Homo sapiens: one gene and its partners. The protein of the gene in region 1 interacts with the protein of each later gene in a pairwise test. Each region holds a gene or a part of one and is shown in the gene's direction. Other genes may lie near its edges. The genes, in order: ARNT2, RFX6, NPAS2 and NDE1.

What was found.
Region 2: the proteins of ARNT2 (region 1) and RFX6 interact in a two-hybrid assay, tested with the Homo sapiens proteins (one large-scale study listed by BioGRID and IntAct).
Region 3: the proteins of ARNT2 (region 1) and NPAS2 interact in a two-hybrid assay, tested with the Homo sapiens proteins (one large-scale study listed by BioGRID and IntAct).
Region 4: the proteins of ARNT2 (region 1) and NDE1 interact in a two-hybrid assay, tested with the Homo sapiens proteins (one large-scale study listed by BioGRID).

The regions. Positions count from the first base shown.
Region 1 is NC_000015.10:80,575,360-80,580,087, forward strand, and holds part of ARNT2 (aryl hydrocarbon receptor nuclear translocator 2), read left to right. Parts: intron 1-1,506; coding exon 1,507-1,606; intron 1,607-4,670; exon of another isoform or gene 4,671-4,728. UniProt on the Homo sapiens protein: Transcription factor that plays a role in the development of the hypothalamo-pituitary axis, postnatal brain growth, and visual and renal function. Specifically recognizes the xenobiotic response element (XRE).
Region 2 is NC_000006.12:116,923,841-116,932,165, forward strand, and holds the end of RFX6 (DNA-binding protein RFX6), read left to right. Parts: intron 1-828; coding exon 829-951; intron 952-1,612; coding exon 1,613-1,819; intron 1,820-3,186; coding exon 3,187-3,699; intron 3,700-4,918; coding exon 4,919-5,131; intron 5,132-7,490; coding exon 7,491-7,666; 3' UTR 7,667-8,321; downstream 8,322-8,325. UniProt on the Homo sapiens protein: Transcription factor required to direct islet cell differentiation during endocrine pancreas development. Specifically required for the differentiation of 4 of the 5 islet cell types and for the production of insulin.
Region 3 is NC_000002.12:100,987,639-100,995,963, forward strand, and holds part of NPAS2 (neuronal PAS domain-containing protein 2), read left to right. Parts: intron 1-440; coding exon 441-638; intron 639-2,617; coding exon 2,618-2,808; intron 2,809-3,141; coding exon 3,142-3,234; intron 3,235-5,708; coding exon 5,709-5,889; intron 5,890-6,785; exon of another isoform or gene 6,786-6,942; intron 6,943-7,761; coding exon 7,762-7,944; 3' UTR 7,945-8,157; coding exon of another isoform or gene 8,158-8,178; 3' UTR 8,179-8,325. UniProt on the Homo sapiens protein: Transcriptional activator which forms a core component of the circadian clock.
Region 4 is NC_000016.10:15,689,160-15,697,484, forward strand, and holds part of NDE1 (nuclear distribution protein nudE homolog 1), read left to right. Parts: intron 1-1,984; coding exon 1,985-2,164; intron 2,165-2,650; coding exon of another isoform or gene 2,651-2,709; exon of another isoform or gene 2,710-3,007; intron 3,008-5,005; coding exon 5,006-5,097; intron 5,098-6,748; coding exon of another isoform or gene 6,749-6,827; intron 6,828-7,549; coding exon 7,550-7,701; coding exon of another isoform or gene 7,702-7,798; exon of another isoform or gene 7,799-7,966; intron 7,967-8,325. UniProt on the Homo sapiens protein: Required for centrosome duplication and formation and function of the mitotic spindle. Essential for the development of the cerebral cortex.

The DNA.
Region 1 (4,728 bases):
ATGTTAGGGATTGTAGGAATGAGATGGGTAGAAATTTGAAGATTCTGGGGCACTGGGAGGGCACTGCAGAGAGCCCTGGGCACCCTCGATGACCGAAGGAGGGAGAACTGTCACATTGGAGCCTGCTGTCTAGCACCCTGCCACCACTCGTGTTCCCACTCCTGTTTCTCAAACCACCATACAAAGCACCTTCTCTCTCGTGTAAAATTCTAAACAGCCAGCTGGGTCTTGAGCCCATTTCTTCAGCCGTGTGGCTGTGGGTGAGCCTGTGGGTGAGACGACTCTGCTCACCATTCTGCGGTGGCAGAAAATCATGCATTATTGCACCTGCTGGCCAGGGGCTGAGTGTTTTCAGTGTTAGAGGAGCTCAGTCTCTCAAAGAAACCCTAGTGGAACGTCAAGGCACACAGATCCAGGGCTGTTCCCTGGACATCACCTGCTGCGGCACCTGCTGGGTGAGGGTGGCCAGGGGTAGCTGAGTTCCAGAGTGGGAAGAGCACTGGGCTTGCATTCACGCCTTGAGCCCTCCCTCGCCGGCTCATGACTTTGGACAAGCTACAACTCACTTTTCTCATCTGTAACAAACGATAGCAAACTTTTAGTTTCTGTTTGCTCCCTTAATCAGGCACTGTCGTAAGCACTTAGGTTAACTCACTGAATTGCCACTACAGCCTTCTGAGGAAGATACTTTTATTCTCGCCTTCTTTCTGTTGGGAAACTGAGGCAGGGGATGATTAAGTAACAGTCCAAGGTTGCACCTCTTACCTTGGAGATGGGATTCAGACCCAGAGAGCTGAGATAAGAGTCCATCCTCTTCGCTGTTACCCTGTGCTTCCTCACCCAGAACTAGAGGACTTGGAATCCCTACACCGCAGGGTTGGAAAGATTGGATAAAATAATGTCTGAGAAAGAACTCTCATTAATTTTTTTTTTTTGAGGTGGAGTCTTGCTCTGTCGCCCAGGCTGGAGTGCAGTGGCGTGATCTCAGCTCACTGCAGCCTCCGCCTCCTGGGCTCAAGCGATTCTCCTGCCTCAGCCTCCCGAGTAGCTGGAACTACAGATGGCTGCCACCATGCCTGGCTAATTTTTGTATTTTTAGTGGAGACAAGGTTTCACCATGTTGGCCAGGCTGGTTTTGAACTCCTGACCTCAAGTGATCCGCCTGCCTCAGCCTCCCAAAATGCTGGGATTACAGGTGCAAGCCACCATGCCTAGCCTCATTAATTCTTTTAATCTTCCCCACTCTCCAAAAAAGCCTTGCCGTCAAGCAGCCTGTGGCCTAGCCTAGGGGTCAAGAACAACAGCCCAGTGCCTTCATATGCCAGGGAGGCTCCAGGGGAGATGAGGAGGCAGAGGCAAGGCTGAGAAGATTGCGTGCAGGCGGGCTGCCCTGACTTGTGTCCTCCCGTTCCCACGCCCACCCCTGCACCTCTTCTTGGGGCAGCCTCCTCTGTGGTCTGCAGAGCAGGGAACCTTCGCATGTGACTCCTGCTCTGGTTTTCCTAGCGGAGAAGAAGATGATGAGCTCAGCCTCTGCAGCAGGAACCCAGCAGATCTACTCCCAAGGAAGCCCATTTCCCTCTGGACACTCCGGGAAGGCCTTCAGGTATGTGCCAGCGAGGGGGACAATGGCGTGGGAAGATGCTCCCTCACCAAGAAAGCCCTGGGTCTCAGAGCACAGCTCTGTGGGCTGTAAGCATGAGTTAGTGGTTACTGGCGCTCAGGCCTTGGACTAAACTGAGGATTCTGGTGGCTCTGCTTCTGCTCTGTGAGCCCTCTATGAGTTGCCATAGATTCCTGGTGTCAGTTACTCTTTCTTGGATGTGAACAGCACCAGCCACTGTGTTCTGTGGCAGTGATTGCCAGGGAGAAGGGAGTGAGTTCCCTCTAGCCAGGACCCAAGTGAGCTGGAGCTGGGAACAGCTGACAAGGTAGCAGGAAGTATCCTGTCATCTGGTGCCCAGAGGCTACAGCCAAATCCAAGGAAGACTGGTCAGCTCAGCCCACCACGTCTGAGCCTCATCCTAAAGGGCACTCAAGGCTTCAGGCAGGGTGTCCAACCTTCCCAAGGGTTGGTTCTTAGCATCAAGGGCATCTGGTAGGTCACTGAGGAAGCCCTGACATCATCACTGGAGGCAAGGCCTGGCTCCACTGACTTCTGGGGAGACAGAAGCATCAACTGGGAAGAACGGTCAGAGAAGAGGCTGGCAGCTCTTGGGGAGGGTATGTGGGCACTCACCTGTGCCCACCAGACACCCTAAAGTTCCTCATGCCCAGCAGGGCAGGGCTTCTCCAGTGAGGTTGGCCAGACCCTAAGCAGAGCTTCCAGATGCAGAGGCCAGGAGGGCAGGTGGGGCCGGCCACCCAGAGAGAGGCCCCTGCCACGGGACTGCCCTAGCCACAAGGAATGAGGATTTTGCTTCCACACTGGTTCAAGGACAGACCTCCTGGAGACAGATTAGCAGACATTGCAGGGGCTCTGGCCACGCCTGCAGCTGAGTCTTGCTGAATTGCACACTGCTCTGAGGCTCTGGGGAGCCCTGGCTGCAGGCAGGGCCTCTGGTCTGGGGACAGCAGACAAGATGGCAGCCCTCTGTGAGCAGTCCCTAACCATCATCACCGCAGGTCACGCTGCTCTGCTGAGCAATAGTCAAGCCCTCCAGACTTCTCTTGGCTGCTGAGTTACTCAGCTACTCAGCACGCACTGACCGATCTCCGTTGATGCCAAGCCCTGTGCCAGCCCTGCCTGGGTGCTCATGTTCATGGGGTCCTTGTGACACTTGCTGCTTGTCCTCCACTCTGGACAAAGGGGATCAGGGAGAGCACAGCAGCAGGAGGTAAGGAGGGGACAGTTCAAAGGCAAGGGGACAGCCCAAGGTGGCATGACCGGAGAAGGTCTGGCTGACTCTTCAGCTAGGCCTGAAAGCAAAAGTCAGGTTCTGCCTCCTGACCAGGGCAGGGGTGCAAGGGCCTGAGGGGTGTGCTGAGTGAAGCCTTGGAGGAGGTGTTGTTGGAGGAGGCCTCACTAATGGGAGAAACAGAGGATGACCACGTTGTTCTATGACAACGGCCTCACACAGGCTCTGCACCTCACACTGGACTGTCTGCCCTGAGCTGTGTCTGCAGCAGCAGCCGTGGGGACCATGCTGAGGAGGAGGACACCATCACTGATGACCTTTGGGAGAAGAGTGAAGCTGCAGACAGGGCTCAGGGCAGACAGTCCAGCGTGAGGTGCAGAGCCTGGGTAACGCTGTTGTCATAGAAACAAAAATGTAGGGTGCACAGGGCAGTGATGAGTGATGGGGAAGGAAAAGCAGGTTTGGGGCAGCTGGCAGTGTGGGGAAGGAATCCAAGGAACGTCCGAACACCTGTGCAGAGCCTGGCATAGAAAAGGCACTTGCTGAGTACTAGTCTGTAAAATGAATGAATAAATGACTGAGTTAATTAAAGGATGCCTGTTAGGGCTAAAGCCTGTGGAATGGGCAGAATTTCCTGTATATCCGAAGGATCTGAGCTGGCTTGGGATGGGGTAGGCTGTGGGATGAAGGACTCTGGGGCCCAATACAGCCATAGGGAATCCTGGGCCGCTTGCAGAATGGTGTTGCTGGCACCTGAAGTGCATCCTCACCCACAGTCCTCCCTCTCTGGTCCCGCCAGTTTTGGCCCCTGCCTGTCCACACTAAGGCAGGCAGCTGTAGCCCAGAGGCCCCCAGGGAGGGCTGTGCACAAGGGCTGGCGCTTTGCCCCAAGAAGCCCATCCCTTTCTGCCAAGGCGCCTTTCCTAGGACCGTCTACGCTGTAGCGGCCCTCATCAGTCAGTGTTTTGGGGAGGACACCAAGGGCTGGGGGCTGTGGAGAGGGTCCTACTAGACAATAGTGACCAGAAAATGTCCTCTGAAGCAATACTTTCATCAGGAAGGAGAATGGGAAAGGAGCCCTTATGTTAAATGAGGAATTGATTGTATGAAGACAGAAATGATGTCCCCTTTATATAAGCCACTGAACTTGTTTTACAATGATCAGCTCAAGAATGTCTCTGACATTCTTGGTTTCTCCCTATTTTAAAAGGGATCAGATAGCATAGGAAACTTATTAGAATACAATAGTAAAATTTTACCCAATCTCTGCTGATCTCTGGCTTGCCTTTTTTTTAACACGGAGCTGAAAATCTACCAAAGCCTTCTGTGATGAGCCCCATTCTGCCCTACTTGACTGATTCATGGGCACCCAGCGCACTGCCCTGCATGCTGAGCTAGTCCCAGGGAGGCAGGAGGAGGGGCCTGAAACAAAGTAAAAGTCTGCCCCCAGCCTTTTAGTCTTTGATGAGCTTCTCATGTAATCGACATAGCCTGGAAAATCTCCTGGAAGAAGCGCCTGGTGGTACAGACAGTGCCTGCCGAGGAGCTAAGCAGGGTCAGAGATTTAGCCTGCAAAGGCCATGCAGAGAGCACGGCACACAGCAGGGGCCTAATAAAGACAAACTGAGTTAAGTCGAAGGTGAACTGAAGGTGGGAGGGGTAAACTCTGGGTAGCAGGACTAGGCCCCATCCAGCAGGTTTTCATTGAGAAGCTTTTCTTTCCGTTTAAAACTGACAGCCTGCAACCTATTTCCTGAATCCTTAAGCCTCATAGGTGCCCCAAAGGAACAAATTAACCAGAGCACAAAAGAGTGAGTGAACAGTGGGACTGATTTTTATTCTAAGAAGCTTCTCTCTTTCTGGGAACCAA
Region 2 (8,325 bases), on another chromosome or scaffold:
GACTCCTATTTTATAGTTATAATGTTAACTCATGAGTAGTAACTCTGCATTTGGTAGCTGCATTTCAGGAAATCTTCACATTATGAAAGAGATTACAATTAACTAAATTGTTTTTATTTAATGTTCTATAGAATTAAATAAAATCAGTGAATTTGTATTGAAGAATAAACAAAACACATTGTCTATTATTTGAAATAGACTTCCCATATTTAAAGTTTTATAAAATATACAGCATTGAAGCCTGGCCTTACTACGAAAAATACTTTTGTTGGAAAATCTATTGAATAGTTAAAAGAAGTTTTAGTTTTCCAGAACATATTTCACTTGAAAATTACTCTTTTAGTTTTTGCCAAATCTAAGAATATTTTGTTTCAGGCTAGAAAGATATCTCTTTACTTGACTTTTTTCAGACCATGTTGGCCATTGTCTAATTATTTAGTACAAAGTAAACAGAAATAGAGCAGAGTAGAGCTCATTCTCCCCAAGTTGAAGCTTATCACACTCCAATGTGTGCCCTCTTAAAGCATAAAGCATGTCTCACTTTCATCCGTATTTTCCTTTGATGTAATTAGTGGCCAAAGAGCTGGCAGGACAGTACACACAGTGAGCAGGGCAGGCAATACACAGAAAGATTAGAGATCCAAGTTAAGCATGTTGGTCTTAGCAGGTCATTTAAAGTCCAACAAGTATTTGTTTATTTCAGTTGCTCCTTGTAAAGTGTTGCGAGATGGTCACAAAGATAACTGACTTCTCTTTCCCTTTCCTTCTCTTTCTCTCCCCTTTTTACATTTCACACTGTCCTCTCCTCATTCTCCATCCATAAACAAGGTTCTTTTCATTTGATTCGAATGCTTCTCGATGAATACATTCTCCTGGCCATGGAGACCCAGTTTAATAATGACAAAGAGCAGGAGTTACAGAATTTATTGGACAAGTATATGAAGAATTCAGGTAACTTAAAATAACTGTTTTGTTTTGCATATTTCTTTGTTTTAATCTTAAGTTCAAGAATTTATAAGTTCAGATATTAAGTGGGTTTATCATAATCTCAGAGTTTTTCTCCAAACATGTCATTACTAATTCTCACCATACAGTCACACTATTGGAGCACTACTTTTCTTTCATTCATTGCTATGTAGTCAAAAGTACTTTACTGGAAACTCTGAAGTATACAAAATTGGTGATCTTAATTTCTGGGAATTAAGGTGAAGTTGGAGAAGTGACTATAATACAAAAAATAACTGTAATTCAAGACACATGTGGTATACTACATATGTAAGTGGTGTAAAAATAAGTTCTATAGGAGTTTAGAGAAGGAAGGAAACACATCTATTCAGGATAGGGCAACTTGCATTTTGAAGACTTCACTCCAAACTGGATTATTTAGTGCTCCTTATCTACATCCACATCCGCAAATATGCAGCTAAAAAAAACCTAGCATCACTGTCAAGAGCAAAGGTCTGCCAACCTCACTTCCCATGGGAAACATTGCTTAGTAGTTTCCAGATTAAATACTCAACAATGAAACATTTTCATTTTCTTTTTACTTGGGTTTATCTACGAGGAATGTGAGAAAAAATCTCAAATTTCCCATTTTAAAAACTCTTTCCAGATGCGAGTAAAGCTGCTTTCACTGCTTCTCCGAGTTCATGCTTTCTGGCCAACCGTAATAAAGGGAGCATGGTTTCCAGCGACGCTGTGAAGAATGAAAGCCACGTGGAGACAACCTATCTCCCTCTGCCATCCAGTCAACCTGGAGGCCTAGGCCCTGCTCTGCACCAGTTCCCTGCTGGGAACACAGACAACATGCCGCTCACAGGTACGCTAAAGAGAACTGCTTAGGCTCCAGCACATCTCAGAGAAGCCTGTTGCTTCATTTTTCTTAAAACTCATAACTTCCAGTCCAGGAATTCCAACAATAAAAAAGGATGATCTTAACTGAGTTTTAATAAAGATTTATAATATTTTTGTGATTTTCAGCAATGGTAATAATACTGTTATTAACACAGGTATCATGTCTTGACACACTCCATAAATTATATTAGAAGTATGAATAATTAGTTAATTTAGTGGAAGAAATAATTAGATGAGGTATACATAAAATTCTTAAGATGCTTTGAAGATCAAAAAAATGGGTTGCTTATTTCTGGATTTTGAGGAGACTTTATTTCTCCTCCCTTAAAAAGTAGTTTCGGGCTGGGTATGGTGGCTCATGCCTGTAATCTCAGCATTTTGGGAGGCCGAGGCGAGCAGAGCACCTGAGGTCAGGAGTTTGAGACCAGCCTGCCCAACATGGCAAAACCCCGTCTCTACTAAACATACAAAAAATTAGCCGGGCTTGGTGGCAGGCGCCTGTACTCTCTCTTGAACCCAGGAGGCGGACCTTGCAGTGAGCTGAGATCAGGCCATTACACTCCAGCTGGGTGACGAGAGTGAAGCTCCATATCAAAAAAGCAAACAAACAAACAAAAAAACTGGATTCGGCCATTTTAGGATAATCGTTACAATAATTCTCCCTTTTGGTCTAAGGTTCTCTTTGTGTCAACATGAATATTTGGTGGCTTGAACTAGCTACTCGGGAATATTTTAAATCTGCTTATTGCCTTGTGTCTTTTTTGAAATCTTTTTATATACATTACTTCATTTGATATACAGAATTTTAAACCTAGAAGAGCCTTATAGTTCAGGAGTCCATTTCTACCAATGGAACACTGGCGGCCCAGAGAGTTGGTGGCATTCATAAATCACATTACTTATAAGAGGTGTTTGCATGACATTTTGAATTGACTGCTTTGAAGCCATGGCCATTTTGACATTAGTGACTTTTTCTTTTTACCCTAAAAATCAAACAGTTTAACAATCAGCTAATTTTTTAATTATGGGGAAATATGAGCAGCAGACACACATGTCCTCCCCATGCTACCTGTGGAGAAACCATGAAGCCATCGCAGACTTTCCTCTGTAGTCACCAAATCCACGTCTCCACTGTTGTGATATATACATGTGTTGTGATTATATTTTTTAAATTCTGGATTTTTGGTGCTTTTCAGTTTAGTTATTTTTGGAGGGCAGGAATGAAGCAAGCTGGAAAACAATACATTAATAAATCTTTTGAATATTTTTTAAAGATGTGAGCTCATCTACTTTAATATGACACTAAAGGAATGTTCTGGTGATTTTTTCCAGGTCAAATGGAGCTTTCACAGATTGCTGGTCATCTGATGACACCACCCATTTCTCCAGCCATGGCAAGCCGAGGAAGTGTCATTAACCAAGGACCAATGGCAGGGAGGCCCCCAAGTGTGGGCCCAGTACTGTCAGCTCCATCACACTGCTCCACATACCCAGAGCCCATTTATCCCACTCTCCCTCAAGCCAATCATGACTTTTATAGCACCAGCTCTAACTACCAGACTGTGTTTAGGGCACAGCCCCACTCCACATCAGGACTCTATCCTCATCACACCGAGCATGGTCGATGCATGGCTTGGACTGAACAGCAGCTTTCAAGAGACTTCTTCAGTGGCAGCTGTGCGGGGTCTCCATATAACTCCCGGCCACCGTCTAGCTATGGCCCATCCCTGCAAGCCCAGGATTCACACAATATGCAGTTTTTAAATACAGGAAGCTTCAATTTCTTGAGCAACACAGGAGCTGCCAGCTGCCAAGGAGCAACACTGCCTCCTAATTCACCAAATGGTATTGATATTTAAAAGAATTTTTCTTGGTTTTTGAGATGGCAATGAGGCAAAATCAGACATTGCGTTCCACCTCTGCTGACTAGCATGTCCTTTCATTTAAGGCTTCCAAAGATCATGGAATCTTAGACATTTGGAGCTGATTTCTGTCACATACATATATATTTCCTAATTTTTGTGGCTTTCCTAAAGTTGCCCTTCTTCCTTTTTTTTTTTTTTTTTTTGAGACAAGGTCTTATGCTGTAGCCCAGGCTGGAGTGCTTGGCAGGATCATGATTCACTGCAGCCTCAAACCCCTAGCTCAAGCAATCCTCCTATCTCAGCTTCCCAAGTAGCTGGGACTACAGGCATGCATCACCATCCCTGTCTATATTTTAAATTTTTTCTAGAGACAAAGTCTCACTATGTTTGCCCAGGCTGGTCTCAAACTACCAACTTTAAGCAATCCTCTCTCCTTGGCTTCCCAAAATGCTGAGGTGCCTCCCAAAGGTGTGAGCCAACACCCCCGGCCTAAAGCTGTCCTCCTAAATACCGCATATGTTAAAAAAAAAAAAAAGATAGTTAAATCATATGTTTGAGACCTACCTTAATAGCCCCAAAGAAGAATGTTCTGTCTTTTGAAAACATTTTTAGTGGATAATATTTCTTCCTGATAACTAAAAGCAGATTTTAAAGATTGGGAACAAAACAGACCAATAAAAATAGGAAGTTAAGGGAATTAGAGAGACCTGTGACCTTGAGTCACCAAAATAGGCTTTGTGTGTAGGCTTCTTTGGTGTCTTTCTCCTAAGTGTAGGCCAGTCTTTGTCTTCCCTAAACATGCATCTATACATGAAAGTAGTATTTTTGTGACAGGCGATAGTGCTTTTTTTCCTTCAAAGGTAGATCTTGTTAATTTAGATAAGGGAAATCTGACAGAAGTGTAATCTGGTCTTAAAGTTAATACAATTCTTATGTCTTAAATTATGTATTATGCTATAATTATTGTATTAAATTATGTATGATGCTACAATTCTTATGTGTTAAAAAACACAAAAAACAGCACAGTAAACCTTATCCATGTACAAGCACAAATCCAGTTCTGTAGCATGTATAGATACACATGTAATACTTACAGTTTGATATCTTTAGGACGTCACCTCATTACTTTGTCACTTTTTTCCTTCCTGAAAGTTCTTTGTAGTAAGTTAACAGCAAATTCTCAACATTTTCTGTTACAGGATACTATGGAAGCAACATAAACTACCCAGAGTCTCACAGGCTCGGATCAATGGTGAATCAGCACGTTTCTGTCATCAGCAGCATTCGTTCACTGCCCCCCTACAGTGACATCCACGATCCACTTAACATTTTAGATGACAGTGGTAGAAAACAGACCAGCTCGTTTTACACAGACACATCATCTCCAGTTGCATGTCGAACTCCAGTCCTAGGTAAATTATTTTAGCAGTTCTTGAAAACATTTTAAGAAGTTGTTAACCTCAGGTATGCAACATTACTTGAGGGAGATATGCTGAGGTGAACTGAGCAAGCATGTTTCCACGGTTGATTTATTACCTTGGATCTAAAGTTATATTTTTTGTATCTGACTACACAGTTAGTAACAGTTTTTCATTTCTTATTCTGTATATCTCTATTATGCAACCTACTGCTAGATCTGTTACTTTTTACAAAAAAAATAGCTGGTATCTATTAAGTATGCAAAAGATTAATATGACCTGTCAAATGCAGTCTAAAACTGTAAGTTTTAAAAGGGCAGTAATAATATCCTTTTCTCACTCTTGATTAGTGTTGGACCCAGTTGTAGTGCCAAGAGATATCTTTAGGCCTCATGATCTCCATCAGTATCCAAAAATCACTCCAAGATTAAAAAAAACTGGTGTCCTGTGATGGGTGCTACTAGCATTTTCTCATTCTTATGTAAAATGTGATTCAACACCTCTGTAGAAAATGTTGCCATTTTTATTGCTCTCTAACATATCATGTAAGTAAAAATAAGAAAAACGTGTGCTTGCCGTGAAGCCTCCTGGAATCTTCTTCCAACCAGGTTACATTTCTTAATCCTCATCTATGAAGAAATTCTGCAATAATAATTAGTATGTTATTAGTAATAACATAGATTTAGTCACTATAGATTTAGTTTCTAAAAATACTAATAAGATTTCACAGGGCAAGTATATATTCACTAAGTATCAAAGCAGAGTGTTAATATTTATATGAGATGGTTAAAGTCTTCCAATGAGATTGATTTCAGACTAGCATAAGTAGAGGGCATTGACACGCAACCAGAGCATAAGGGAAAATGAAATCAATTTCATCTCTCCTCACTCAGTGTACCTTCCCAATAATTCAATAGGAAGTACTCCTTCTCTTCCTGTCACTGTCACACATGCTCCCTGAGCAGAATCTAGCAGCTCATCTTCTGCTATCTGCAAATGGTCATTGCTTCTAGGTTACTCTAATGAAGCAGAAAATTCCACTTCAGGAAGTTTTCTCACCATGAGACTAAAATGTACTGTGTTGCTATTGTTACTATTAGTTCTGTTTACCTGAAGAGATAGTGGAAGCTTTGACGAAACATAGGTTAAGAGTAGGGTGGAGTCTAAGCTTTAGTTTATCAGAGCTGGCTTACAAGTAGATTACAAAGTGTGCTGCAGGGTAAAATGAGGGGATAGAATAAGTGGATAAGTAGTGCAAGGAGAATTGAGTTCAACTATTTCTTAAGTATAAAGCCTGGTTCTTAGACAGAGAGCACGTCATGTCAGCAATAAGAAGGCAGCAACCATATATGAGAGAAATACAGGGCTAGTGAGCCAGTTAATGAATTTTATTGAGAACCGACTAGGAGCCAGACCCCATTCTAGATGTGAGGATATGGTGGTGATCAGGCCATAGTTCTTGCCTGTAAGAAGTTTACATTCTAGTAGAGGGACAGTAAGGCAATAAATACATGAGCAAATGCATTAAAAAGATAATGTCAAGTACTCTGAACCTGATTAAATAGAGTAAAATGACAGACAGTAAAGGAGGAGCTGCTTTCGGTAGGACAGCTGAGAAAGGAATCCTGAGGCAGAAACATTTGAGTTGAAAGCTGAGTGATGAGAAGGAGGCAAAGATGTGAAGATCTGAGGGAGGAGTTCCAGGCAGAAGAAACAGTGAATGCAGAACCGCTGAAATCAGAATAAATTTGAAAAAATCAATGGGCAGAGAGCAGGCCAGTGTGTCTTAAGCATGTTGAATGAAGGAGAGAGTAGAGCAAAATAAATAAAAAATCAGGGGCCCATCTACATAGGGTAAGATGCTTGGTTCATGTTCCAAGGGTATCGGAAGCCACTATGGCATTTGAGACGAGTGAAAGTTTGATCTACTCTTCAGCAATATCATTCTGGTTGCTCTCGGGAAGGTGAGTGGGTGAAACAAAGGTGGAGATCATGGGACCAGTCAGGAGGCTGCTGTGTTGGTCCAGGAGAGAAAAGATGGTGGTTTGAACTACAACCGTGAAAGTGCAGATGGAAAGAGGAGGTTGATTGGGGGATATATTTTGGCGGTAGCACTTAAGTTGAAATGGAGTTTTCTTTGTGAAATATGTAGAGGAAATAATTTCTGGGAGACTAGCAAGTGGGAACAAATGGAAGAAAAAATGATTGCTCTGGTAAACCATACAGACTCAAATTTAGAATAGGTATGTGTGCTAAGTGCAAAAATAAATACAGGGTATTAAAATGAGTGGCATTTGCAGAGAAAAGAAAATGTCAATCAATTTTCAATTGCTGATTATATTTTCCCTTACAGCTTCCAGTTTGCAAACCCCAATTCCTTCTTCCTCATCCCAATGTATGTATGGAACTTCCAACCAGTATCCAGCTCAAGAAACCCTGGACTCCCATGGAACAAGCAGTAGAGAAATGGTGTCCTCTTTACCACCTATCAACACTGTGTTCATGGGAACAGCAGCTGGAGGCACTTAAACCACCAATGTGGGAGGGGGTGCTAAAACTTTAAAAAAAATCTCTACTGTGCAAATATCATTATTCACTCAGACTTCCATAAGAGTAAATAAAAATGAATATGCAGTGGCTGACATTGTTTTAAAGTCACTGGTACTATGGACAACTCCATAGTGAATGGAGATACTTGCAGAGCTTGTCATGCACACTAAGAGTTTAAAATGTGAGCTCATTATTAATCATAGTTTCAAAATTATCAAATAAAACCAGTGAAGATCTGAAGATGCAAACATTTCAACTATGAAGATTTACATTTCACTTTCTAATTTATTAAACATCTGTGTGCCTTTTTATCTTTGGTTTCTTTTAAAAAGTATATTTAATGCCTTTACAATACCTTTAATTTATTAGGATCTCAGAATCATTGTTTACTATCCCTTATTTGACAAAAAGTCAAATGTGTATGTTCTACCTCCAACGGAAATGTTTACAAGGTCAAGACTTAATTCAATTCAGACAAGACCAAAGTTGCTTGACTTCAATTCCTGTGCATTAGTGTGATGATTTCTGTCACATAGCAGCATTCCGATTCTATGTAACTGAATGGAGATGATAAGTGCTTTCCCCTCTTTATTTAAAAAAGATTAAAAGGAATAAAAGAAATAATGTATGGAAATATT
Region 3 (8,325 bases), on another chromosome or scaffold:
GCCCATGCCACAGGTGAGCCATCCCTCTGCCCCTATATCATGAGGCAATATTATCATGACTGCATCATGCATTCCACTCACCAGGTATTTCTCCCTTCTAGGAAGAAGCTGGTAAGCCAACCTCGACTCTAAACAAGTACATCACATTATTTAGAGAACATCTGGGTCTAAACAGCTTTCACATTGTTAGGCCTCAGTCACTTGCCTGTAACCTTCATGAAGGCAGAGAGAGTGTCTCTCCAGCCCATGGCTCTGTGGCCAGTGCCTGACACTGAGCTTGGGGCATCACAGGTGCTCCATGTCCACCAGTGGAGTAAATGAACTATTTCTAGGCAGCTCAGAGCAAGAAAGTTCTTACTGGCACAGGGAATGCAAAGGAGGTGCACACTGGTGAGGTACCCATGACCCCAACTTCACAGGCATTTCTATTCTGCTCCCAGATGTTCCTGCAGCAGCCAGCTGTATCCCTGAGCTTCAGCAGCACCCAGCGACCTGAGGCTCAGCAGCAGCTACAGCAAAGGTCAGCTGCAGTGACTCAGCCCCAGCTCGGGGCGGGCCCCCAACTTCCAGGGCAGATCTCCTCTGCCCAGGTCACAAGCCAGCACCTGCTCAGAGAATCAAGTGTGATATCAACCCAGGTAAATGTGCTCCTTGCCAGCTTCACTCCTTGCCTCTAGAGCAGACACCCTCTTGCAGTTTGGGACATACTTGATTCCTGCAGCCTACGTGAACTGAGGCCTACTGCCCTGTTCCGTTATGGACTGAGGGTAGATTTGGGAGTGAGCCTTCTTTTCCTTCTTCTGTTAAAGTCACTTTGAAACCCCAAGTTGTATTGGCTTCCTTCTGTGTTTTATAAATGTCCACCTCAGTCCCTTGCTCTCGTGCTTAAAGATATCACTCGGCTGAAATGTTCACCTTTGATGCTGACTTAGGGTTGGAGGCAGATATGGCCATCCCAGAGACCCACTGGCAGCTGAATGTCCCAACACTCAACGTCCATGGTCCCCGCCATCTACTCTGGTTTTAACCATTACCCACATGAGCAGCCACTGCTGTTCACTGTCCCTTGCCCCAGGTGCCCCCTGCTCCTCCAGGCGCCCCCTGCTCCTCCAGGCCCCCACTGCTCCTCCAGGTCTCCCTGCTCCTCCAGGCCCCCATTGCTCCTCCAGGTCTCCCTGCTCCTCCAGGTCCCCCTGCTCCTCCAGGCCCCCACTGCTCCTCCAGGCCTCTCTGCTCCTCCAGGCGCCCCCTGCCCCTCCAGGCCCCCACTGTTCCTCCAGGTCCCCCTGCTCCTCCAGGCCTCCCTGTTCCTCCAGGCGCCCCCTGCTCCTCCAGGCCCCCCTGCTCCTCCAGGCCCCCACTGCTCCTCCAGGCCCCCCAGACTCTTTGCCAAACCCTTGTAGCCATTTCCACCTATTCCAAGCCACCAGTGACCTTGCAATTGGACAAAATCGCCAGCAGATAAATGGCACTCAAATGGAATGGAATTCAGAAGTCTGGAGCAGGGCTTCTGGAGGATAACAGATGGGAAGGCAGCCTTTCCTCCAGCCTCACATTCCCATGCCCTCGTGGCTTTGGTAAAGTCAGCTGAGCTCCTGGAATTCACCAAGACCCAGGGGAACAATGATGAGCAAGAGTTGTCCTGGGCCTCGAGGAGCCTGTAGTCCAGTAGAGAATCTGGGAACTTAGATAACCTGCAGTACAATACAGATAAACACACATATGGAAGTGTTTAGGCCATCTTTCTTCAAATGTAAGGGTTTTGCTTGAAAATACAGCCTTTTGATTTAAAAGGTCATCAGAAAAATAGGTGAGAAGAGCTAAGAAAATTTTGGAAAAGAGAAAACTGAGGAAGGATTTATACTATCTGATATTGGAAAATTTTGTAAAAACTAAGAATGAGAGCACTGTGTTATCGGATGAATGGACAATCAGTGAAATAGACAGAAAACCCAAAGCAGGTGCAAGCCCACTTCCTCACTCATTTATTATTTCACTCAGCTCCCTGCGTGCCAGGCACTAAATTCTGAGCACTGAGGGAAAGCAGTGAACAAAAAAGAAAAAAGAATTTCTGTTCCAAGTGAGGAGAGAGACGAACATGTGAAAATTATAGTATGTGCAATGGTACAGGAATGCTGGTGAGGGCCAGGAATGGCTGGAGGTGTAAAGAGGTAGCCAGGTAAGGCCTTTTGAAGAAGATAATATTTGAGTCAAGACCTGAGGGGGTGAAAGAATGAGCCATGTCAATGTCAGGGGAAGAGCATTCTACAGAGCAGTCAGCTCGTGCAAAGGCCCTAGGGCAGGAGTAGGCCTGGTGAGTTGGAGAAACAGCCAGGAGGGCCATGTGTCTGCAGTAGAATTTGAAGCAGAAAGTAGTTCAGTTCAAGGCACATTTGCTACTTGCCTGCCTAGAGTCCGGCACTGTCCTAGGCCCAAGGGATTCAAATACAATCCAATGGGGAAGACAGTCACAGATCAAAGTAATTCAGTAGTTGGGAGGTTCTGATTTAGAGGAAAGGCAAGGGTAGGTAGAAGGAGGAGACACTGGGAGGTTTCCTGGAGAGATGGCCCAGGGTTGAGTCCAAGTCTTACCTTTCTCATTGAAATGATGCTCCAGGGTCCAAAGCCAATGAGAAGCTCACAGCTAATGCAGAGCAGCGGCCGCTCTGGAAGCAGCCTAGTGTCCCCGTTCAGCAGCGCCACAGCTGCGCTCCCGCCAAGTCTGAATCTGACCACACCTGCTTCCACCTCCCAGGATGCCAGCCAGTGCCAGCCCAGCCCAGACTTCAGCCATGATCGGCAGCTCAGGTACGAGACTGCCCTTGTTTAAAGGATAACCCAGGCATCATTTTACCCCATTCATTTCAGCTCTACTTTCTGCTTTAGACGGAGGCAGAGTTCAGACAGATTCTAAAGTGTCCACAGTTGATCTCAGCTAAGGAAGCAGAGGACAGGGCTTGGGATCCTGAGGTCCAGGGGAGGTTACCCGCTGCGTCCATCATCCTCAGAGAATGAAGCCAGGAGAGTGGGGATTAGAGTCAACCATAAAGGGTCCAGCCAGGCTGAGCAAGTGCTGCCACGACCAGTGGGTCTGTGGTTCAGGTGCTGATCAGTTTCCTATTTCCCCACCTCTGCTTAAAGGCTGTTGCTGAGCCAGCCCATCCAGCCCATGATGCCCGGGTCCTGTGACGCAAGGCAGCCCTCGGAAGTCAGCAGGACGGGACGGCAAGTCAAGTACGTGGACCCTGGCGGGAGGCAGGAGGCAAGCGCTGGTGGAATGGTTCCAGGCTGGCCAGACTCACCCGCCTGGGCCAGCAGCACTCACATGAGCCTTGCGCTAAAGGCAAGGTCTGAGTGTGCCCACAGCTGTGAAGGGGACGCTGCCCCTCAGCTTTTCTTCTACCGTGTCCCAATTAAGCAGAAAAAACTCAGCGCTCCATGCTTACAGCAGCACTGAATGAAACAATTCACACCCCACCGTTTGCCATCATCTTCCGACTTCCTTACACCTGTAAAGCCCTCTAAAGCCCTCACCCCTGGAGACATCCCCCTTCCCAAGGACCCTCCCCCAGGCTCCAGCTGACATGCCGCAGGCACACTTGGTGCTCCGTGCTTCTGGCACCGTGCTCGGGCCCGTCTCTCCCAGACAAGCAGCCCCCTCTCTGCCTTCCCCAGCCTCCTCTCCACTAGCACCGGTAGGACCAGAAGCAGCTTTACTCAGCTACTTAATTACTAGGGACAACGGTTACTGGAGACACGGGGAATAGTTTAAAAGCTGCTGGAAAACAGTTTCTAGCCCTTGGGAATGAGGCAGAAATAGAGCTATCACACAGACATCTCCTTCATGTTAACACTGGTTGACTTTGTGTCCAGAACTAACCAGGACAGTGCTAGCCGATCAGGCCTGGGATGCCCTCATGTAGAAGCCTCGCAGGCACCCCCAGGCCCCTCTCCCTAGAAGTCCTTCTTCTGTGCCCTCCTTCAGCCAGGACAGAGAGTAACGGCAGATGGTTACTGCCTTTCTGAGGGTCAGGGTCTGTATGTTCATTATTTAATTTTATCCCGATAAAAACCCTAGGGTGTAGGCACATGCTCGGTCTTTTTTTGTTTGTTTGTTTGTTTTTTAAACCAGTGAAGAGGCTGGGCTTTAAAGGGGTTAGATTACATTCTCGAAGGCCACACAGTGCAGATGGTGGGGCTGGAGGCCAGCTAACTCCAGGCCACGGGCCCCTTGGGCTCCCTGAATCTTCAAAGTCCACCTTGTTGGCCCTGTCTGGGGTCTCCCTATGCCTCAGGATAACTTTCTAGGCAGCCTCTGCCCCTGAGACTTTCTGGCCCTCCCTTTGGTCACAGGAGGGTAAGGAGGGACCTGCAGGTTGTGGGGAGCCATCTGTAAAGTTCCGTTCATGTCTATCATTAGGTGGGAGGAAGTGGGCTGGTTTTGCTTCTGGATTTTACCTGTTCTTCCTAAATGATCCAAATAAGTGGAAATAGGCTGGGCGCAGTGGCTCATGCCTGTAATCCCAACACTTTGGGAGGCCAAGGCGGGCGGATCACCTGAGGTCAGAAGTTCAAGACCAGTCTGGCCAACATGGTGAAACCCCCATCTCTACTAAAAATACAAAAATTAGCCGGGTGTGGTGGCACGTGCCTGTAATCCCAGCTACTCAGGAGGCTGAGGCAGGAGAATCACTTGAACTTCAGTGCTCTGTTGGTGGGAACTGTCCAGTGCTGCAGCCACTGTGTTAAATGTCGGCTCTGTGTCCCCACCAAAATCTCTTGTTGAATTGTAATCCCTAGTGTTGGAGGTGTGGCCTGGTGGGAGGTGATTGATCATGGGTGGGGACTTCCCCCTTGCTATTCTTGTGATAGAGTTCTCCCTAGATCTGTTTGTTTAAAAGTGTGTAGCCCCTCCCCCTCGTTCTCGATCTCCTCCCGGCCATGTGAAGTTACTTCCTGGTTTTTTGATAATCACCATTGTAATGAGTGTGAAGGGACATCTCATTTTGGTTTTGATCTGCTTTGCCCTAATGGAATGGCTACTGATGCTGAGTATGTTTTCATGTGTGTGTTGGCCATTTCCAGGTTCTCTTTGGAGAAATGTCAGCCCCAATGCCCATTTTTTGATTGGGTTGTGTGGGTGTCTTGTTGTGGAGTTGTAGGCATTCTTTATATATTCTGTTATCGGTCTCTTATTAGATATGTGATGTGCAAATATCTTCCCCTACTCTGTGGGCTGCCTTTTCCCTCTGTTGATAGTGTTGATAGTGTCTTTTGATGGACAAAAGTTTCTTTTTTTTTTTTGCTTTGAGACGGAGTCTCACTCTGTCGCCCAGGCTGGAGTGCAGTGGTGTGATCTCGGCTCACTACAGTCTCCACCTCCCGGGTTCAAGCTATTCTCCTGCCTCAGCCTCCCAAGTAGCTGGGACTACAGGTGCCCAACATGACACCTGGCTAATTTTTATTTATATTTTTAGTAGAGACGGGGGTTTCACCATATTGGCCAGGCTGATCTCGATCTCCTGACCTTGTGATCCGCCTGCCTCGGCCTCCCAAAGTGCTGGGATTACAGGCATGAGCCACCGCGCCTGGCCAAAAGTTTCTTATGAAGTCCAACTTATTTGTTTTTTCTTTGTTGCTCGTGCTTTTGGTGTCGTATCAATACTGCTTTCTTAAAGGACCTGTTTTCTCCTTCCCACGTGAAACAGGTACGCCCAGAGCCAGACCGTGTTTCAAAATCCAGACGCACACCCCGCCAACAGCAGCAGCGCCCCGATGCCCGTCCTGCTGATGGGGCAGGCGGTGCTCCACCCCAGCTTCCCTGCCTCCCAACCATCGCCCCTGCAGCCTGCACAGGCCCGGCAGCAGCCACCGCAGCACTACCTGCAGGTGGGTGCCACGGCCCAGGGGGCCCCCGTGCAGGCCTGGGAGCCGGGCCACGCTCCACACCCGAAGTCTCAGAGATATTTTATTCCCTTGCTTTCAAGGTTGTTCTATCCCTAGTATAGAAGTAAGCCCCAGAAAGATTGTTATTTGATTGTTTTTCATGCTTAAAGTTTATGAAGTCTATGTCTACAGAGTACATGAAATTACGAGTCGGCTATTATGCCTTATGTGGTTATGTGCTAAAAAGGTTCTTTTTTAAAAAAGTAGTTTCTACTCAAGGATTTGCATCTTGATATGTTCACAGTTTTTAGAGCAAAAGTCGAAAAACATTGATGACTATGTTGGACTTTTCAGTGTGTTTATAAAGTCCTATATAAACATAAAGTTAAATCACATTTAGTTAAAGATCCATTAACCTGCCTTCATAAATACAGTGATGTGTGAAATTGGGCTTGCCAGGAAAATTTGGAGCTCATTTACATGTGGTCACTACTTCGAAGGCAAAAATTACTTCAAGCAAGTGCCAAGTATGTCAAAAGCAGGGAGGGTGAGAGCCACTGGTCCGCAGGTTCACGTGGGAGCCACACGTCTGCGTCTGCCAAGCTGCAGAAGGGCCTGGCCTTCCCTCACCCATGTGCAGGGTGCCCCTCTTCACCCCAGCCCTTCCCTGTCCTGGGGGGGCTTCCTCCCTGGCCTGCAGCCCCACCTGCACCTGCAAAGCCATGGAGAATGAGCAGTAGCTGAGACCTCTTGAGTACTGTAGATAGTGATGAAGATAGCTGTCCTTGAAGTTCTAGAACGTAATTTAATTCCAGTGCCGCTAAGCCATCTGTGCTATAATTTTCAGATCTCCCTGACCCCACACATAGTGGGAGTCAACTCAGACTTTGGCTTTGCAGATCTTGTCAGTTCTCGAGACCCAGAAGTGATTTTGGATGGGAAATGAGCAACAGACAAGTTTGCATGCACCTGTTGCAGACAAGATGCAGGCTATGAATACAGAGAGCGCTTCGGCCCACTCACTGCCCTTAGGGGCTTGGGGTGGGGTGCAGAGAGGTGGGTTAGCACAGAATGCAGTCAGGCTCGGATTTGGGAACAGTGGGAGTGCTGTGGTGGGGAAGCCTTTGTGGAGGAAGGGACTTGAGGAGAGGGAGGGCTCAGAAGGCACCCACTGCAGAGTCTGATGTCCAGGAAATGCCCGAAATGTGGGTGAGGGTGAAGATAAAGGGACAGTGTTCCAGCCAGACAGCCTGAGCAAAAGTTCAGGGCAGCTGTGCCTGGGCAGCTTTGAGAGCAGGGGGGTGCTGGGTTACTTGCAGGAGGAGATTTCATGGAAGGGAATAGTGGGTGATAAGACTGAAGTTTCCAAAGTCAGGCTTTGGTCAGTCAAAGCTTCTAAACTTCCAATCAAGATGCTCCTAGTAGGTGCTGGTGAATCTGGAGGTAGCTACGGGATCAGGGACCAGCAGTGAAAAGTGTACAAACTGTATGTGTGTTTGGATTCTGCCCTGTCAACTACCTGCATGTGGCCTCAGGTTCCATCATCCAAAAACATTGTGGCTACATGTAGATCATGTGCACGTGTTTACGAAACCATTCCCCATAGCCATAGCCACAGGCCTCAGTCGATTGGGCCAGAAGGTGCCCCCACTATTGGCGGAGAACTTAGCTTCAGAATTCACCCTAAGGTTCCCTTAGTCCCCATCCCCACCACACCCCCAGGTCTTGCCAGAGCCACCTCTCCCCACATGACCCCCCAAGAAAGACAGCCCTGTAGTCTAACTCAACCTGCAGCATGCCCCGCACTGCCTTGTAAGACAGTTGAGGAGCGGACATCAGAACCACCTCTGAAGCCCTTTGTTCTTTTTTTTCTAGGTACAGGCACCAACCTCTTTGCACAGTGAGCAGCAGGACTCGCTACTTCTCTCCACCTACTCACAACAGCCAGGGACCCTGGGCTACCCCCAACCACCCCCAGCACAGCCCCAGCCCCTACGTCCTCCCCGAAGGGTCAGCAGTCTGTCTGAGTCGTCAGGCCTCCAGCAGCCGCCCCGATAATGCCCCGGCACTGAAGTCGGGACACAATCAGCTTTAACCAATGGATGAGGGGGGTGGCCACAGGAGATGGGGAGAGGAGTCTGAACTAAACCCCTGGCTTTTGTGCACACTGCATACGTTTCAGAACTCCTGGATGGTAACCATCTCTGGAGTGCAGCGCTTGCTGCAGTGGAAATGATCAGGAATACTGACCGTGTTTCTCTTGCCTCCGAGGTTCTTGGGCACACTCTATAGCCATACTGGACAGGAACCAGGTGCCCCGTGTAGGCATCGTCGGTCGGTTTGCCGTCAGAGATGGCGCATCTCGCTGCATCCCCCGAGAGTACACCGGTTGCTCTAGCCACCTGCGGCCCGCCCATCTGCGCTAGCTGGCCTTCACGC
Region 4 (8,325 bases), on another chromosome or scaffold:
GGTTAAAATGAACAGTAGATAGAAATGTTGTGGTAGAAAGATTGCCAAGGCTAGGCACAGTGGCTGATGCCTGTAATCTCAGTGCTTTGAGAGACGGACGCAAGAGGATTGCTTGAGCCTAGGAGTTCAAGATGAGCCTGGACAACATAGTGATACCCCATCTCTACAAAAATGAAAATTGTAAAAATTAGGCCTGGTGGCATATGTCTGTAGTTCCAGCTACTTAGGAGGCTGAAGTGGGAGGATGACTTGAGCCCAGGAGTTCAAGGTTACATTGAGCTATGATTGTGCCACCGCACCCCAGCCTGGGTGACTGAGTCAGACCCTGTCTCTAAAACAAAAATCATTGCCAAGACATACCACTGAAGTGGGGAGAGTAAGTCATACACAGGACAACATATTGTATGTTTCCAGTAATGCTTAATAAAAAATTTTCTTGTTTTATGCTCAGTAGATACATACATATGTATAAAGTTTATGTTTGAAAATGGAGAGAACAGCTGGGCGCAGTGGCTCACGCCTGTATTCCCAGCACTTTGGGAGGCCAAGGTGGGTGGATCACCTGAGGTCAGGAGTTAGAGTCCAGCCTGGACAACATGGTGAAACCCTGTGTCTACTAAAAATACAAAAATTAGCCAGGTGTGGTGGTGCGTGCCTGTAATCCCAGCTACTTGGGAGGCTGAGGCAGGAGAATCACTTGAACCCGGGAGGCAGATTTACAGTGAGCCGAGACTGTGCCACTGCACTTAAGCCCGGGCAAGAGAGTGAAACTCCATCTCAAAAAAAAAAAAAAAAAAAAATTCAGAGAACAATGGTTGAAAAGCTCTCCCACATGTTATGGTGATGATGAGTGAGGAGGAGCATTTGGGGATAGTCTGGAAAGCATACTTTATTTATTTTTGAGACAGTCTTGCTCTGTCACACAGGCTGGAGTGCAGTGGCGTGATCTCAGCTCACTGCACTCACTGCTTGTCCCCCAGGCTCAAGCGATTGTCTTGCCTCAGCCTCCCAAGCAGCTGGGACTACAGGCGCTCACCACCACGCATGGCTAATTTTTTGTATTTTTAATAGAGACGGGGTTTTGCCATGTTGGCCTGAAAATTCCTGACCTCAAGCAATCCTCCCATCTCGACCTCTCAGAGTGCTGGGATTATAGGCTTGAGCCAGTGCAACTGGCCTTTTTTTTTTTTTTTCTTTTTTTTTTTTTTTTTTTTTTTTTTTTGAGCCAGAGGTCTCACTCTCGCCCAGGCTGAAGTGGTATGATCATGGCTTACTGCAGCCTCGACTTACTGGATTAATGTGATTCTTACACCTCAGCCTCCCAAAGTGCTGGGATTACAGGCATGAGTCACTGCTCCCGGGCATATTTTCATTTAGTGTTCTAAATACACTGCTATGTTGGAATTGTTTTTTCAATAATAAAAGCATTAGTGTGTCACTGTCATAGCTTTTTAAAAATCTGAAACCATTTTGTTAGTCAAGAGAAACATCCTGTAGAGTTCCAAGTCTGCTAGGCAAGGTCCTGTGGGTTTCCCTTTATTTGGGGTTTCTACCTGGAGTGTTTCACCCCAGTAGGTCTTTTTTCTGACTGGTATCTACTGTTGAACCTCTCTCCCTGCACCCCACCAACCCTAAGCAAGGACTTAAATTCCCTTTTTGTTTTTTGAGACGTAGTCTTGCTCTTGTCACCCAGACTGGAGTGCGCTGGAGCAATCTCAGCTCACTGCCACCCTGGCCTCCCAGGTTCAAATGATTCTCATGCCTCATCCTCCTGAGTAGCTGAGATTACAGGTGCCTACTACCATGCTGGGCTAATTTTTGTATTTTCAATAGAGATGAGGTTTCACCATGTTGGTCAGGCTGGTCTCGAACTCCTGACCTCAGGCGATCCACCTGCCTTGGCCTCCCAAAGTGCTGGCATTATAAACATGAGCCACTGCGCCTGGCTGAGGACTTGAATTCCTGAATCCTTTTTCTGGCACAGATTTGCGGCAGGAACTGGCCGTGCAGCAGAAGCAGGAGAAACCCAGGACCCCCATGCCCAGCTCAGTGGAAGCTGAGAGGACAGACACAGCTGTGCAGGCCACGGGCTCCGTGCCGTCCACGCCCATTGCTCACCGAGGACCCAGCTCAAGTTTAAACACACCTGGGAGCTTCAGACGTGGTAAGGGGAGTGGGAATTGCAGGATTTTCTCGGTTCACAAAGTGTTTCTGGGTAAGAATCTGGGGTGGGTCCTGGGGGTGTGATGATTTGCATCAGGCTCAGAGCCTGATTTGCTCTCAGGCTTTGAGCAGAGAGTAGACTGGGATGTTCTTGGGGATGGGCATTGAGATCAGTGAGGACTGGGTAAGAGGCAGTAGTGGAGTCTGATGAAATGGAAACCCCACCCAGAGCGGGTGGCTGCCACTCTGCAGCTACGAGGATTGGCCCTTCATCTGCAGCTTTTTCCATTCTTCAAAGCCAGAAATCCTCTTTTTTTTTGTTGGGTTTTTTTTTTTGAGACAGGATCTCACTCTGTTGCCCAGGCTGGAGTGTAGTGACGTGATCTTGGCTCACTGCAACCTCTTCATCGTGGGCTCAAGTGATTCTCCCACCTCATCCTCCGGAGTAGCTGGGACTAAAGGCACCTGGCTAACTTTTGTATTTTAGGTGGAGACACAGTCTTGCCATGTCGCCCAGGCTGGTATCAAATTCCTGGACTCAAGTGATCCGCCCACCTCGGCTGATCCCAAAGTGCTGGGATTACAGGTGTGAGCCACCGCGCCTGGTCAAAAATCCTCTTGTTGAATATAAAACCTCCCAAATTTGAAATGTCACTGACCAAATACAAAAAAGTAAAAAGCGTTCTGTGGGTTTAGTAATACATCCACCGAGAGCTAGACTCAGCGTAACGTGTGCTGCATGGGCAGAAAAAAAGAATCTCAGTTCTCACCCCAGCCCCTCTGCTGACAGCTTCCGATCAGGCCTTTTACAGCAGATATTAATAACAGACAGTTAAGGAGTGCTCAGTGTGTGCTGGCCAGCCTGCAGCCTTCGCCGCAGGCCCAGGATGCAGGTGCTGTCCCCGTTTGATGAAAGTGAGGCTCTGAGTTAAGCAGAGTCATGAAGCAATTGAATGGCAGATGGTTTGGGATTCAGACCCAGGCAGGCAGGCTCCAGGGCTTACCCTACCATCTACTACCTTATCCCTTAGCTTGTCCCCTGGGCATGAAGAGACCAGTGAGACTTCTAGAATTCCGGTGCAGAGCCCTTCTGTTTAGTTTTGTTGAGATGGAGTTTTGCTCTGTTGCCCAGGCTGGAGTGCAATGGTGCGATATTGGCTCGCTGTAACCCCCTCCTCCCAGGTTCAAGTGATTCTCCTGCCTCAGCCTCCTGAGTAAGCTTGAATTACAGGTGCCCACCACCATGCCTGGCTAATCTTGTATTTTTAGTAGAGATGGGGTTTCACCATGTTGGCCGGGCTGGTCTCAAACTACTGACCTCAGGTGATCTGCCTGCCTCAGCCCCTGAAAGTGGTGGTATTACATGTATGAGTCACTGTGCCTAGCCCCAGTCTAGAGCCATTTTGCATACTTTATTTCATTGTTGTTTTTAGAGACACAGTCTTGGTCTGTGGCCCAGGCTGGAGTGCAGTGGTGCAATCATAGCTCACTGCAGCCTCCAACTCCTGGGCTCCAGTGATCCTCCTGCCTCAGCCTCCTGAGTAGCTGGGACTAGAGGCATGCAACTCCATGCCTGGCTATGTTTCCACACTTCAATATGCATGTAGCTTACCTGGGGATCTTGGTAGAATGTACCTCAGATCAAGTGGGTCTTGGGTGGGGCCTGAAATTTCTTTCTCTCTTTTTTTTTTTTTTTGAGACAAAGTCTTGCTCTGTCGGCCAGGCTGGAGTGCAGCGGCATTGATCTTGGCTCACTGCAGCCTCTGCCTCCTGGATTCAAGCGATTCTCATGCCTCAGCCTCCCGAGTAGCTGGGATTACAGGCAGGCACCTGTTACCATGCCCAGCTAATTTTGTATTTTTAGTAGAAACAAGATTTTGCCATGTTGGCCAGGCTGGTCTTGAACTCCTGACCTCAACTGATCGAACTGCCTCGGCCTCTGAAAGCACTGGGATTACAGGTGTGAGCTACTGTGCCTGGCCGAGAGATTCTGCATTTCTAACAGTTCTCATGTGCTGCTGGTGCATGGACCCCACTTGGAGAAGAGAGGCTCTGCAGAGCGGGACCCTTGTAAAGCTGGATCATCCTGTCTATAGTTCTTGTATCTATCACAGATGCCATTATGTTAATTAACTATATGGATTTTCTACAATTTCAAAAGGATTTGTTTTGGGTTTGTTTAAAAAGACTAATGTGGCTGGGCACGGTGGCTCATGCCTGTAAATACCAGCCCTTTGGGCGGCCAAGGTGGGAGGATCGCTTGAAACTAGGAGTTCATGATCAGCCTGGGCAACATAGTGAGACCCTGTCTCTATTAAAAAAAAAATTTGTTAAAGGCCAGGCATGGTGGCTCACGCCCGTAATCCCAGCACTTTTGGAGGCCAAGGCGGGCAGATCATTTGAGGTCAAGAGTTCGAGACCAGCCTGGACAACGTGATGGAACTCTGTCTCTACTAAAAATACAAAAATTAGCCGGGTGTGGTGGCACATGGCTATAATCCCAGCTACTCAAGAGGCCAAGGCAGGAGAATCGCTTGAACCTGGGAGGCGGAGGTTGCAGTGAGCTGAGATCACATCACCGCACTCCAGTCCGGGTGACAGAGCAAGACTAACATGTAAAAATAAGTATTTGTTGCAGTCATCACAAGGACTTGAAAAATTGGTTGTCATACGGGCCTTGGGTGTGTGATGCGGTTAACTACGGAAAGAAATAGGGTAGCTTTTGGGATCCGAGGAAAGGCGTCAGTGTCCCTCCTGTCCCGTGGTTTTGGATCTAGCGATGTTAACGCACAGACATGACTATAGGTTGGTGAGTTACATGCTCTTCCCTTTGCACACCCAGGCCTGGACGACTCCACCGGGGGGACCCCCCTCACACCTGCGGCCCGGATATCAGCCCTCAACATTGTGGGAGACCTACTGCGGAAAGTCGGGGTAAGACCACACTTTCCTGGCGTTTGGTGCCTTCCTGCCTGTCTTTCAGGATGTGTGAAGGGGGTTGATCTAGTTCCTTCCCTCTCTTCTTTTTTTCTTTTTTTTTAGAGACAGGGTCTTGCTCTGTTGCTCAGGCTGGAGTGTAGTGGTATGATCACAACTCACTGCAGCCTCAAAATCCTGGGTTCAAGCGATCCTCTCACCTTAGCTTCCCGAGGAGCTTGGACCACAGGTGTGCGCCACTATGCCTGGCTGATACTTTCATTTTTTTGTAGTAATGTGGGTATCGCTGTGTTGCCCAGGCTGGTCTTAAACTCCTGGCCTCAAGTGATCCTCCCAGGTTGGCCTCCCAAAGTTCTGGGATTACAGGCATGAGCCAATGCGTCCAGCCCCTTTCATAGCAGTGTGGTGAGTTTTAGGTGTGGCTGCTCCTTTAGCATCCCTGGGAATCATTAGAGCTTCCTGTGGGAGTTACTGCCAGACACTCAGAGCTCTGACTCGAAGCCCTGCTCTGAACCCTATGTATGTCTCTTTCCTTTTACCGTTTTTCCTCTAGGAAATTTGGGAAATTAGGGTGATATGTGTGTTTTTTCCTTAACTCGAAAAATTAAGGAGCACTTGGAAACTGCCTTCTCTTTTGGCCGGGTGCTCATACCTGTAATCCCAGTGCTTTGGGAGGCCAAGGTGGGAGATTACTTGAGCTCAGGAGTCTGACACCAGCCCGGGCAACATGGTGAAACCCCCTGCCCCGACTTGGCCTCTACAAGAATGCAAAAATTAGCCAGGCCTGATGGTGTACACTGGTGGTCCCAGCTACTCAGGAGGCTGAGAGGTGGGAGGATTGCTTCAGCCTGGGAGGTTGAGGCTGAGTGAGCTGAGATTCCAACACTGCACTCCATCCTGGGTGACAGCACGACGTTGTCTCAGAAGAGAAAAAAACTGCCACCTTTTTTTTTTTTTTTTTTTTTTTTGGTTTGTTTCTTGGGGTTTAAGTGAATTTTGACACTTTGGGAGACCGAGATGGGTGGATCACCTGAAGTCAGGAATTCAAGACCAGCCTGGCCAACATGGTGAAACCCCATCTCTACTAAAAATACAAAAATTAGCCAGGAATGGTGGTGGGCACCTGCGATCCCAGCTACTTGAGAGGCTTATGCAGGAAAATTGTTTGAATCCGGGAGGCGGAGGTTGCAGTGAGCTGAGATCGCACCGCTGGGTGACAAAGTGAGACTTGGTCTCAAAAAAAAAAAAAAAAAAAATCTTGAAAGCCTAGGGCAAAGAATTTGGCCTTTCAGCTTTTATGTTAATTACAGGGAGGGATCCTTTTGTGCTTAAGTAAAAACATAGGTATTCTTTGTAGTTTATTTTTAAAAATGATGCCTAGAAGGCCACATAATTTAACTCCTACCAAGTTGTCACTGTACACAGTGTATTTGTAGCTACAACTTAATAGAAGCTTGCAACTCATTTCTTTTGTTTTTACTTCTGGTTTTTGGCTGTCTGGTTTGCTATTCTAGAAGCAGGTCTGCATTTCAGTATTTAGCCTAGTTGGAGTATAGAGAAGCCTGGGGTGCTGTCAGTGTCCTTTTGGTTTCCTCAGGGTCTGTTGTAGCCAGACCAAGTCCTTACCAAACTTCTTGCCATTCTGCAGAGGTTTAACAAGGTAAACCAAAGGGTGAAGGATTCCAGAAGTGGATTTCCTACTTCCTACAAGCGGAGTTGGATAATTGGTAGGTTAGTGATTTTTCCAGAAAGCTCCCATTTTAAAAAATTTTTTGTAATTAAAAAAGAATTTTTTTTTTTTTTTTAAGCCAAGCATGATTGTGCATAGTCCTAGCTATTCAGGAGGCTGAGGTGGAAGGATTGGTTGAGGCTGCAGTGAGCCGTGATCTTTTTCCAGGCAGCTCCCAAACATTTTAAAAAATTTTTCGTAATTAAAAAAAATTTTTTGCATTAAAAATTTTTTTTATTAACTGGGCATGATTGCGGATGCCTATAATTCCAGCTGCTCAGGAGGCTGAGGTGGGAGGGATTGGTTGAGCCTGGGAGGTTGAGGCTGCAGTGAGCTGTGATCTCACCAGTGCACTCCAGCCTGGGTGACACAGCGTCTAAAAAAGTAAAAAACAAAACAAAAAAAAAAACTGAGATGGGATCTTACTTTGTGGCCCAGGCTGGTCTCAAACTCCTGATGTCAAGCCATCCTCCTGCCTTGGCCTCCCAGAGTGCTGGGATTATAGGTGTGAGCCATTGTGCCCAGCCAGCTCCCAAATACTTAAGGTGCTTGGTTCTGAGACTGGCATATACGTTGGATTCCTCTTGGGGTCCCACCTTGGAATTCCAGTGCACAACAGTTTGAGAACCACTGTCTGGGGTTCGTTCTTCTGTACAGGCTCTGGTAAGACAGAATAGTCCTTGCCTATAACTTGAGAGATAAAAGTGTATTTCTGTCCAGGCACTGGAGTCCAAACTCGCTTCCTGCCGGAACCTCGTGTACGATCAGTCCCCAAACCGAACAGGTGGCCCAGCCTCTGGGCGGAGCAGCAAGAACAGAGATGGCGGGGAGAGACGGCCAAGCAGCACCAGCGTGCCTTTGGGTGATAAGGGGTCAGTACCTTCTAATAAACCTCTCGCTGGCGGGGAGAACCCGCCTGCCCCAGGCAAGAGACACTCACCCCCAGCCCACAGCCATGTGTCTTTTTAAATTATAGGATTATTTCAGCAAACCTTATCCTCTCCTCTGCTCCCTGCAGGCAGCATTAGGTGGTGTCTTGTGGCTTGAACAAAGGGCTAGAGAGAGGGTCTTGTTTTGTGAGACAGGGTCTCACTCTGTCACCTAGGCTAGAATACGATGGCAGGATCATGGCTCACCCTCTGCCTCCCAGCTCAAACGATCCTCCCACCTCAGTCCCCCGAGTAGCTGGGAGTACAGGTGCGTGTCACCGTGCTCGGCTAATTTTTTGTATTTTTTCTAGAGACAGGTTTTGCCATGTTGCCGAGTTTGGTCTCAAACTCTGAGCTTCAAGTGATCCTCACCCTTCATCCTCCCAAAGTGCTGCGACGACAGGTGTGGGCTACCATGCCTGGCCAAGAAGGTCATTTTTATCATTTGATTCTACAGCTGCTACTCACGGTTACACTGTGAGAATGTCCTGTATAAAAGCCCTTATTTGGGCCAGGTGTGGTGACGCTCGCCTGTAATCCCAGCAGTCTGGGAGGCCAAGGCAGGTG